2 separate regions of the Homo sapiens genome follow, and region 2 is linked to region 1. Evidence: fine-mapped expression QTL. A gene starts in region 1. The other region holds a variant in brackets. All regions are shown on one strand. Distances are from middle to middle.

Region 1 (5,378 bases):
TTATAGTTGAAAAAACTGAAGCTAAACATAACTTTCCCAGTTCACACAGGTAGTAAGTGGTGAAGCCAGAACTTGATTTAACTGTAAATTTCAAAGCAACTTTATTTTGAAATATTAAGAAAAAATAACAGGAAAAGAAATCTGCCATCAGAGAACCATAAAAATCAGGCAGATTCACAGAATTTTGCCTCAAATAGCAAAAGCCAAAGTCATAGGGCTGAGACTTTCAGAAGACCTCCAAGTTCAAACCAAAGATAGCATGTCTTGAAGACAAAACTGGAGACAATTTTCTACCATTTAGAGCTGTCTACAATGGAATGGCTACTTGGAAAAATATTAAGCTCCTCATGAGAGTGCCCATTCAAGTGGCAGAAGTGCCCCAGGATTTTACAGCTGGGACTCTGGATGCCTGACAAGATCATCTTAAGGTTTCTCCAACTCTAAAATTCTATGATAATCTAGCTGTCAATCTCCGTAGCTTTTTCTGCATTGGTAGAAATTATTCTTTGAAAAAGTTATTCTAAACTGAGAAACACTGGTGAATTTAGAAAAACAAGAAGGGAAAGGTGATACGTCAGTGGCAAGTTTCTTATGCTCATCTGGTTGAAATATTCAAATAAATTTTTATTTTAAAACAATTCTGCATAAAAATATAAACACGTGTTTTGTTAAATATTTGGTATGCTACAACCTCAGCACAGTGCTATGCACAGAAAACATCACTCAACAAATATATATTTACACTTTATATGTAACACATATATATATACATGTATCTATTGCATGCATACATAAATGTATAAAATAAATGTATTTTGACTGTGCTATGCATTTATATGTTATGTATTCAAGACAGTTTTAACTCTTGCTGCCAGACTGCCAGCAGAAGATGAAAACAACATTTTAGCAAAAACATCTGTCTCCTTGACCCCTTCAGGAAAACGCTGAGATCTAAAGGGCAGTTCTGGTCAAGTTGGTGCTCTGTGAAAAAAGTCTAACATGCGATATTTACAATTCCTAACATGAAGTGGGCAGCAAGGTTTTAAACCAGGGTCCTAGGTTAAGACTTTTACATGGCTCTTAAGTTTTTGGTTTGAAATGCTGTGAATTCCAGTATCTGTCCCATATATAATTTTAAAACACTTTCCAACATCTGATATACAAATGCTTTTAGGGGTTTATCCGGTTCACAGCTTCTTCACCATATTGGAGTAATGCTGGTTAATCTAAATCACTGAAATAAACCAGTGCCTGAGAGCCACAGGTACCAATAAGCAACACAATTTATTGGAGACTGTCTTTCTAGGTGAACCATAAGTATAGACACGGAAGGAAGATTCTTTTCTCCCTAATGAATGGTGAAAGTGTATGTAGTATATGCTTCTGACACAGTCTTTGGAGAGCTGATTCAAAGTCTTCTCAAGTAACATATAGCTTCCCAATCGTAAACAATCTAACTTTTTAATTGCAAATGCAAAAAAACCCCTAAGAAATTCAATTAAAATTAATAAAATCGTTTTATTCGCGCTCATAGCAGAGGGAACTAGTCTAACAGGCTAAAAGCAACCTCCTGAAAGGAAGAAATCCTATCTCAGGTAGTGGAGCAGTCTCCTGGACCAAGCAATGTGCTGTCAAATTGTATAAGATTAACGGTTTTCGAGGAGGGAAAAACGTTTTGGCGATGGGACTAGTTGAGGAAAAAGCACTCTGAAGTGCTGATTCCCGTTCAGTTCAGCCTAGAGACTGCAAGATGTCCCACAGAAGATGACATCTTGTTGAAGTCATGTGCTACAGCAGGCAAATCAGGAGATGCAAAGAGCCAAGTTTCATCCCAACTTTTAAAGCAACTTTTAAGCATCCCCACCCTCACCCAGCTTCCTCCCTGGACCTTGACCGGGAGGGTGCAGGAGGTAAGCCTTTGGGAGAGGCAAGGACTGCGACAGTAAAAGCGCCTAAACTCGCCCACGACCCGGGCTGGGGGATAACTCAAACTTTCCGTGCCTGGAAAGGCTGCCTGGCGGCGGAGGCGGCGCCGGCGCGCGGAGTCCCTGCGGGCGCCCGCACATCCCAGGCAGCTGTGCGTTCGTTGGGGCGGTTGCGCGGGCGGCCACCGCCCCCCAAGGGCAGATGGGGCACGGGGCGGTCCGCGGGGTCCGGCTTCCAGCCGCCCCCGCCCCGCCCGTCGAAGCAGAGCCCGTGAGTTGCCTCGCGCCGCGTCCGCGGGGCTCAGACCGTTGGCAGCGGCAGTTCGACCGTTGGCGGCGGGACTCAGGCGGCTCGCGGCGTCGGCTGACAATTTCAACCCCCCGCCCCCGCCCCTGTCCCATCCCAGGGCACTCCGGCGGGGGTGAGGGGAGGACCAGATAGCACGAGGCGACTCCAGGGAAAAGTTTTGTGGCGCCCGCTGCGCCGCTCCGACGGCCCGGGGACTGCGGGAACCCTGCCTCCCACGCGGGCCCGAACCACCCCCGGGAGCCACCCGCCCGCTCACCCATCCGTGCCCGCAGCTCTCTCAAGGATGGGCTGCCGCCAGCGCCAGCTGCGGCGCCGTCCGCCATCATCGGAGTCGGGACCGGAGGCGGTGGTGGCTCTCCGCATACATTGCGCAGGCGTCGGCGCGGCCTCCGCTTGGGTCGTGGCCGGGCTGCCGGTGGGCGGGGCGGGGCGGGGCGGGGCGGGGCGGGGCCCGAAGGGCCACCGCGCCCGCCTCGGACCTGCGAACCGGGCAGGATTGCCCCTTGCGTCCCACGTCCTGACCGGCTGGGCAGCGACTACCTGGTCTAAAGAAACCCTCTCCTATGTTCCGTGCTCTGCCCCTACTGCATTGTGAGGACTAGCCAATCAGCACCCAGCTTGGCCCCCCCAACATTCCTTTCTTCACCTTTACCTAGCAACACAGTAACATTCCTTCCTCATTCATTCATTCATTTAAAGAACATTTACGGCGTGCCTCCTGGGTGCGCTTGTATCATGAGTTTACTAGTCCTTGAAACATTACACAAAGAAAGACCCAAGTTGGGGGAAGAAGCCTAGGGAGAGGTTGGGAGTCGCAGGCTTGCTTTGAGGTGCTAGGGGCCCCATCATGAGTAGGCTTCCCTAAACTGTTGCACAATAAATCATGACACATAGGTCTCAAAGTTGGGTGAAATATCTTTAAGATGTTTGTGAGTCTTCAAAGAGAGGCAGAGGACTTATTGGCATCAATCTCTCCGGATTTTGGGAGAGACTCTACCAGGTTGCAGAATGTTTTTCCCATTCACAAGGAAAACCGTCATTGGCCTGAGGCTCCTTTAAGGGGCAGACCTCACTTCATGGGGGCTTGCCCTTATGAGGTGGAGTCACCACTGTTGTGAGTGTGTGTGTAGTGACATAGTTGTAGGCACGCAGTTTATGGTTGGGGCCATTAAGTGTGGTGCAGGAGATCCCAAAATGGGGCTGGACCACTTGTGAGATGGGCACTTTGGCGAGACCACTGAGTCTCCAAATGACATGGGAGCTGTAAAATGGAAGAAGCTAATAATAGCATATATTACATATGTTAGCAATGATAGCATAAGTTACATATATTAATATATAATATATATAATATGTAATATGGGGCAGGCACGGTGGCTCATGCCTGTAATCCTAGCATTTTGGGAGGCTGAGGTGGGTGGATCATTTGAGGTCAGGAGTTCGAGACTAGCCTGGCCAACATGGTGAAACTCCGACTCTACTAAAAATACAAAAATTAGCCGGGCATGGTGGTGGGTGCCTGTAATCCCAGCTACTTGGGAGGCTGAGGCAGGAGAATCGCTTGAACCCGGGAGGTGGAGTTTGCAGTGAGCCATGATAGCACCACTGCACTCCAGCCTGGGTGACAGAGCGAGACTCTGTCTCAAAAAAAAAAAAAAAAAAAAAAAGAAAAGAAAAGAAAAAGAAAAAAAAGACATTACGTTGCACCTACAATTTTAACAAAAATTAAAACGTGGTCAATAAGTGTTTGCGATGATGTAGATTAATACAAGTGGGGGGCCAGGCACGGTGGTTCACACCTGTAATCCCAGCCCCAGCACTTTGGGAGGCCCAGGCAGGTGGATAACCTGAAGTCAGGAGTTCAAGATCAGCCTGGCCAGCATGGGGAAACCCCGTCTCTAGTAAAAATACAAAAATTAGCTGGGCGTCGTGGCGGGCCCCTGTAATCCCAGCTGCTCGGGAGGCTGAGGCAGGAGAATCGCTTGAACCCGGGAGGTGGAGGTTGCAGTGAGCCGAGAGCTGCCACTGCACTCCAGCCTGGGCAACAGAGCGAGACTCTGTCTCGAAGAAAAAAAAAACTAGTGGCAAAAATAAACAGTTTGGCATTATAACTCCCGAAGCTCTGCTTCTAAGTAAATACAGAGACCAATGCTTTGCATGATATCCAGGATGGTAGCCATTCATGATTATTAATACGACACACATATGATTAGGGTGCCCACAAAACACACACACATACACAAACACAAGTTCAGCTTTCATGACCTTATCTGGAACTCCGCAAACAGAAAATTTAGCAAAACACATCAGCTTTGTAGTTTCTTGCAAAAATGTTGAACCCAAATCTAATAATGAAGAAACATTCAGACAGAGATAGAGACTGTGATATAGTCCACAAAATAACTGGCCCCAATGCTTCAAAATATTAGTGTCATGAAAGACTAACAACAAAAATCAGAGAAGTGTTCCAGATCACAGGAGGCTAAAGAGACCACATGCAATGTATGATCCTTGATTACAACCCTAATTTTTAAAAGAAGCTTGAAAGGGCATACGTTACTGGCATAATTAGAAAATTTGAATATGAACTGTATGGTACATGATATTGTATCAAGGTCAAATTTCTTGGGTGTGGGAATGATGTTGTAGTCACCTAGGAAAATGCACTTCTTCTTAAGAAATAAATAGTCACGCCTGTAATCCCAGCACTTTGGGAGGCTGAGGCCGGCACATTGCTTGAGCTCAGGAGTTCCAGACCAGCCTGGCCCAACATGGCGAAACACCATCTCTAGAAAAAAATAAAAACACAAGACAAAAACCCAAAAATTACCTGGGTGTAGTGGCACATGCCTGTAATTCCAGCTACTCGGGAGGCTAAGGCAAGAGAATCGCTTGAACCCAGGAGGCGGAGGTTGCAGTGAGCTGAGATTGCCTGCTGCACTCCAGCCTGGGAGACAGAATGAGACTTTGTCTCACGAACACAAAAAAAGACATAAATATTGAAGAATGTAGGGGTAAAGATTTGAGGTTTTTCCAAATAAGAAGTTAGATAATTTTTTCTTTATTTTTTGAGATGGAGTCTCACTCTATCACCCAGGCTGGAGTGCAGTGGTACAGTCCTGGCTCACTGCAACCTCCGCCTC
Region 2 (5,378 bases), 34 kb before region 1:
GTTTTTAGGGATTGGAGCTGTTAAAAAACTTCATTCCACATGCAGTGTCCACAATGACACAGGCGTAGAAAATGCGCTGATCTGCAGAATCTGCTGGTAGAGGCCAGGGGTCTGTCCCTCCGGGTAGAGGATACCAGGAAGGGAAATGCGAGGCAGCAATGCGTGAGGGGAAAGCTAGGTCAGTGTCCATCACCTTGGCCTTGTAAACAGGAACATCCTGGTAGACAGTTTCAATGGATGGATCAACAGGACCTGGCGCCAGACTTGGCAGTGAAGAGTTTCCAGCTCAGATGAGACACAAGGAGGAATGGGATTTCTGGAATTTGACAGGAATGGGATGTGTCTAGTTCGTGCTGATTTAAAAGTATATAGAATGCTCTAGCATGTTCAGTGGGGAATGGCTACCACCATTCTCATAAGCACCAGACCCCAAAGACTTGGGATAAACAAGGACCTTGCCTTATCAAAAACAAAACCTAGTAAAGCAGAGGTCCCCAACCCTTGGGCCACGGACTGGTGCTGGTCTGTGACCTGTTAGGAACTGGGTCACAGAGCAGGAGGTGAGTGGCAGGAGAGCAAATCTTCATCTGTATTTACTGTGGCTCCCCATCACTTGCATTGTTGCCTGAGCTCGGCCTCCTGTCAGAGCAGTGGTGGCATTAGATTCTCATAGAAGTGAGAACCCTATTGTGAACCACGCATGTGAGGGATCTAGGTTGTGTGCTTCTCATGAGAGTCTAATGTCTGACGGTCTGTCACTGTCTCCCATCACCCCCAGATGGGACCGTCTAGTTGCAGGAAAACAAGCTCAGGGCTCCCACTGATTCTACATTATGGTGAGTTGTATAATTACTTCATTATATATTACAATGTAATAATAGAAATGAAGTGCACAATAAATGTAATGCACTTGAGTCATCCTAAAACCACCACACCATCCCCACCAAAGGTTCATGGAAAATTTGTCTTCCACAAAACCAGTTCCTGGTGCCAAAAAGGTTGGGGACTGCTGGAGTAAAGCATGACTTAAGATTGGAAACTAAACACTCACAGGCAGATCAGAACATTTGTTTTGCCACTCACAGTAACAGTGATGTCATTAAGAGATGAGTATAAAAGAGCACAATTAACTGCCCAGACTTTTCAAAGCAAGAGGGTTTTCCTCATCCAAGGTGAGCACTGAATGTGAGAATTAAAGGGGCAAGGGGAGGAGGGAAAGGGGAGTGACTGCTTAAAGGACACAGATTTTCTTTTCAGGGTGATGAAAATGTTCCAGAACTAGACAGTGGGGATAGCTGCACAGCCTTGTGAATATACACTTTAAAATGGTTACTTTTAGGTTATATGATTTTTATTGGGATTAAAAAAAGCAAGATCAGCACCATAAACCAGGGCAAGAAAGAAAAAACAAAATATTTTTTTTAAAAAAATCAAAAGATACTGCAGTAATAAGCCTCAACTTATACAACAGAACCATCACAGGGAAGAGTAACAAGCACTGAAATAGTTGCAGGAAGACAACCAGAGCTTGAAAACTCACATCTAGGCTGGGTGTGGTGGCTCATGCCTGTAATCCCAGCACTTTTGGAGGCTGAGGCAGGAAGATCACTTGAGGCCAGGAGTGCAAGACCAGCCTAGGCAACATAGCAAGACCCTATCTCTAAAAAAAAAAAAAAAAAAAAAAGAAAAAAAGAGAAGAAGAAAGAAGAAGAAGAAGAAAGAAGAAAGAAGAAAGAAGACGAAGAGAAAAAAAAAAAAGCCAGGTATGGTGCCATGACTGTGGTCCCAGCTACTCAGGAGGCTAAGGTGGGAGGATTGCATGAACCTCAGAGTTTGAGGCTGCAGTGAGCTATGATCGTGCCACTGTACTCCAGCCTTGGCCACAGAGTGAGACCTTGTCTCTAAAACAAACAAACAAACAAAAAAACTCACATCTTTCTATTCCAGAAGTGGAACTCTGCCAAATCACCAACTGGATGAAGAGGGAAATCAGGGGATTTGATCCCTGTTCATTCAATTTGCTGGCTGCCTGTGTTCATAGCTCAGCCAACAATTGGTGTTGCCTTTATACCACCACCAGTACACTTTTTTTAGTATTATAATGAAAAAACCCTTGTTTTATCTCCAAAGTTTATTTTATATAGCACACATTTATATGGAACTGTAACAGTGTTTCAACACAAGACATTTGTGCAGAAAAATAACAGGAACTCTTTTGTTAGGATGATTGTCTCTGTTTTATACATGAAAGAGCTAGTATATAAAAATAGTTTTTAAACCAAAGGTAACCTTCTCTATTCTATATCAAAAGTACAATACTCTGAGTGGCAAAGAACCAGGGAATCTGAAAGAATTACCTCCTTTTACTAATCCAAGACTGGCAGCCAAAAGGAACACTGGCCTGCTTCAGACTATTTACGATTCAACACTGAAAACTCATTAGGAGAATTAATCTGCATTTGAATTTTATGGAATCATATACTGTGTGTGCATACATACGTGTATGTACATCTGTGTGCATTTCTGTGTGCCCATCACACGAACTCACTGGCAGCCAGTGGCTAGAGAAAGGCAAGCAAATTTTGGTTGTATCTCAAGCCTGAGTGTATACTCAACGACAGAACTGGAGAGTACAGGCAGAAAAGTACTTTAAACATTTAGAGGAATTAAACATACCCCACGGGACAACAGCCATATACTCCTTTATGTACACAATAAAAATAATATATGTTTCTGTAGATAAACACCAATATGTCCTTCAAAAGGAAACACTGACAAGAGCATGAAAGGTGCTGACTGTTCCAAGATGGGGCTTTACAGGACTCCCAGCATTTCAGGTTATTAGTGCCTGTGTACTCACTGGCACAGATGGGTAGAGTTAAAAATATACATATATCACAGTAAAATACAATTTGCTGGATTTTGCAACCTTTGGTATTTTTATATTAGAAACAATCTGACAGCTCTTGTGAGCGATCCTGCGGCCCTTGCATAATCTATT[C/A]TGTTCTCTACAAGATCAACTGTGAGTTTTTAGCTGTCAAAATTGTCACTGGTACACAGAAAAAGCATTACTTGGCTGGGTGCAGTGGCTCACACCTGTAATCCCAACACTTTGGGAGGCCAAGACGGGTGGATCTCTTGAGGCCAGGATTTCGAGACTAGCCTGGTGAACATGGTAAAACCCTATCTCTACTAAAATACAAAAAAATTAGCCAGGTGTGGTGGCACATGCCTGTAATCCCAGCTACTGGGGAGGCTGAGACAGGAGAATTGCTTGAGATGAGGAGGCGGAGGTTGCAGTGAGCCGAGATTGTGCCACTGCACTGCAGCCTGGGCGACAGGGCAAGACTCCGTCTCAAAAAAAAAAAAAAGAAAAAGAAAAAGAAAAAGCATTACTTTAAGATTTCAAATATATACTGAAAGAGAATTAGTTCTGCAATCAGATTCTTCTAGAAACTCCACAGTTACAGTTTCAGGAAAGCATCCTTGATGCACTCACTCCAGCAAACACATTGGTGGGACAACACAAGAATGAGAGACAATGATGATTTTCCAAAGAAAACAAAAACCACTCTTTACTTAGAACTCTTGCTTAGACACAAGAGAATAAGATGACTTTAACATCTGAGATATACATCAAAGTGGCCTTTTGACAGTTTCTTTCAATTTTTCGGTGTCACTTCCTTTACCAGGTTCAAGTCAGAAGCAGAAAAATTTGAGGACTGATGGGCCCAGGAGTTGAGTTATCCAGAGTGGAAGATGTATTCATCTCCCAGGCTGAGTAAGGTTTACATATCTGACCAGAGGGAAAAGTAAAAGAAAGATCAGTAGAGAAGATGCTAGTCTCACAGCAACTTGTCCCTGGCCTCCCTTCAGGGCACACGCCCAGGACTCTCAGCAGCCCCTCTGGAGTTGCTGACACACTGGTCCTATAAATGTCCTTCACTTCCCCAGTCCCCAACCAGGCCCAAGGTGCTTCTCAATTTCAAAGAGAACTTCTCAAGGAAAGAAAAACAAGAGGCTTCTGGTTTTGGAAACAGGTTGAGGCTTATTCCGAAGACCTCCCTAATCTTCTGCCCTAAGCAACTGTCTGTGTGCTTGCCAAGCAACCAGCAGACCAGGAGCTCAGAGGAGTCTGAGATGCAAGCTTGAAAAGATCATTTTTTTTTTTGAGACAGAGTCTTGTTCTGTCACCCAGGCTAGAGTGCAGTGGCAGGATCTCGGCTCACTGCAACCTCCGCCTCCTGGGTTCAAGTGATTCTCCTGCCTCAGCCTCCAAAGTAGCCGGGATTACAGGCATGCATTACCACACCCGGCTAATTTTTGTATTTTTAGTAGAGACAGGGTTTCACCATGTTGGCCAGGCTGGTCTCAAACTCCTGACCTCAAGTGATCTGCCCGCCTTGGCCTCCCAAAGTGCTGGGATTACAGGCGTAAGCCACTGCACCTGGCCAGAACTTATTTTTTATATCCGGCCTGAAATGTGGTACATAAAAATTAGAATCAAGTCATCTACTCTCTACTTTCTCAAAACCAACTTAATGGAAGACTCTCACATCATTCCTGCAGACCCACAACTGTCTTCTCCTTCTCTTCCAAAGCTATATGGTGCAAAGACTGCCCTGGAATGGCTAGAAGGAGGGGAGCGGGTTCAGGGTCAATTGCCTTTCAAGAAAAAGGTAGATGAGATGAGGACTTACCCAAATGAGGAGAAACAGGTTTGCTTCTTCTCTTATTGTCTAAAGGTGTCTGAGGACTTTGGCAAGATGTCATGGAATCCTTCAGATTTTGTTTGTGCCTGTCAGGAGAAAAATGTGACAAAGATAGTTCTGTGTGACTTAAACAATGTTGGTGATCTTGTCACAGATACGCTGCTGCTCATAATTCATACTAACAGAGGATCTGCTGGTGGTGTTGGTTTCATCCGCCTTTCTGGTTTTCGTTGTGTGACTGGTCATTCTTTTGGAAGATGGTCTGGAAAGAGACAGTTTGGTTAGAATCCCAATTATTCCCAAACCAAGGCTCTGGCCTAAAAGAAGCTTTGTCCTTTAATTAACTTCTAAGAAATGCCTTGGAATTAAAAAACATTTCAGAATCATAGAACAGGATGACTGAAAGGAACCCTAGAGATCACAGGACACACTGATTTTCAAACTGTATTCCAGAAAGCCCTAGGTCCCACGGAAGCACCAGGAGTAGGAGCAGCTAAGCACGCAGGACTCCAGAAACCATGCCCCTCCCTTACATTGGTCAAGGATGCGGCCAGTGAGGTGTAGTAACAGAATTGGTACAGGTCCTCTAGCTCTAATGCTCCTTCCACATCATCACACCTCTCAGCAGACTCCTGTTCCTGTGGGCCTTGCAGGTGAATGTCTTCT

Evidence for each region. PIP is the estimated chance that this variant, and not a neighbour inherited with it, causes the effect.
Region 2: its variant is the best candidate, but not a certain one, in a credible set for the expression of MAP7D3 in monocytes (TOPMed, PIP 0.76).

What each region holds. Positions count from the first base shown.
Region 1 is chrX:136,248,798-136,254,175 of GRCh38, forward strand. It overlaps MAP7D3 (MAP7 domain containing 3), which reads right to left and starts at 2,603. Exons shown (of 19, transcript NM_024597.4): 1 at 2,492-2,603. The coding sequence starts at 2,561. RefSeq lists a silencer at 2,320-2,709.
Region 2 is chrX:136,214,698-136,220,075 of GRCh38, forward strand. It overlaps MAP7D3 (MAP7 domain containing 3), which reads right to left. Exons shown (of 19, transcript NM_024597.4): 17 at 4,896-4,974; 18 at 4,701-4,798; 19 at 2,117-3,796. The coding sequence ends at 4,733. Among named protein-coding and RNA genes, the nearest start is that of FHL1, 20 kb to the left of the region's middle. RefSeq lists a silencer at 1-107. The variant C/A (reference allele first, on the strand shown) is at 3,002.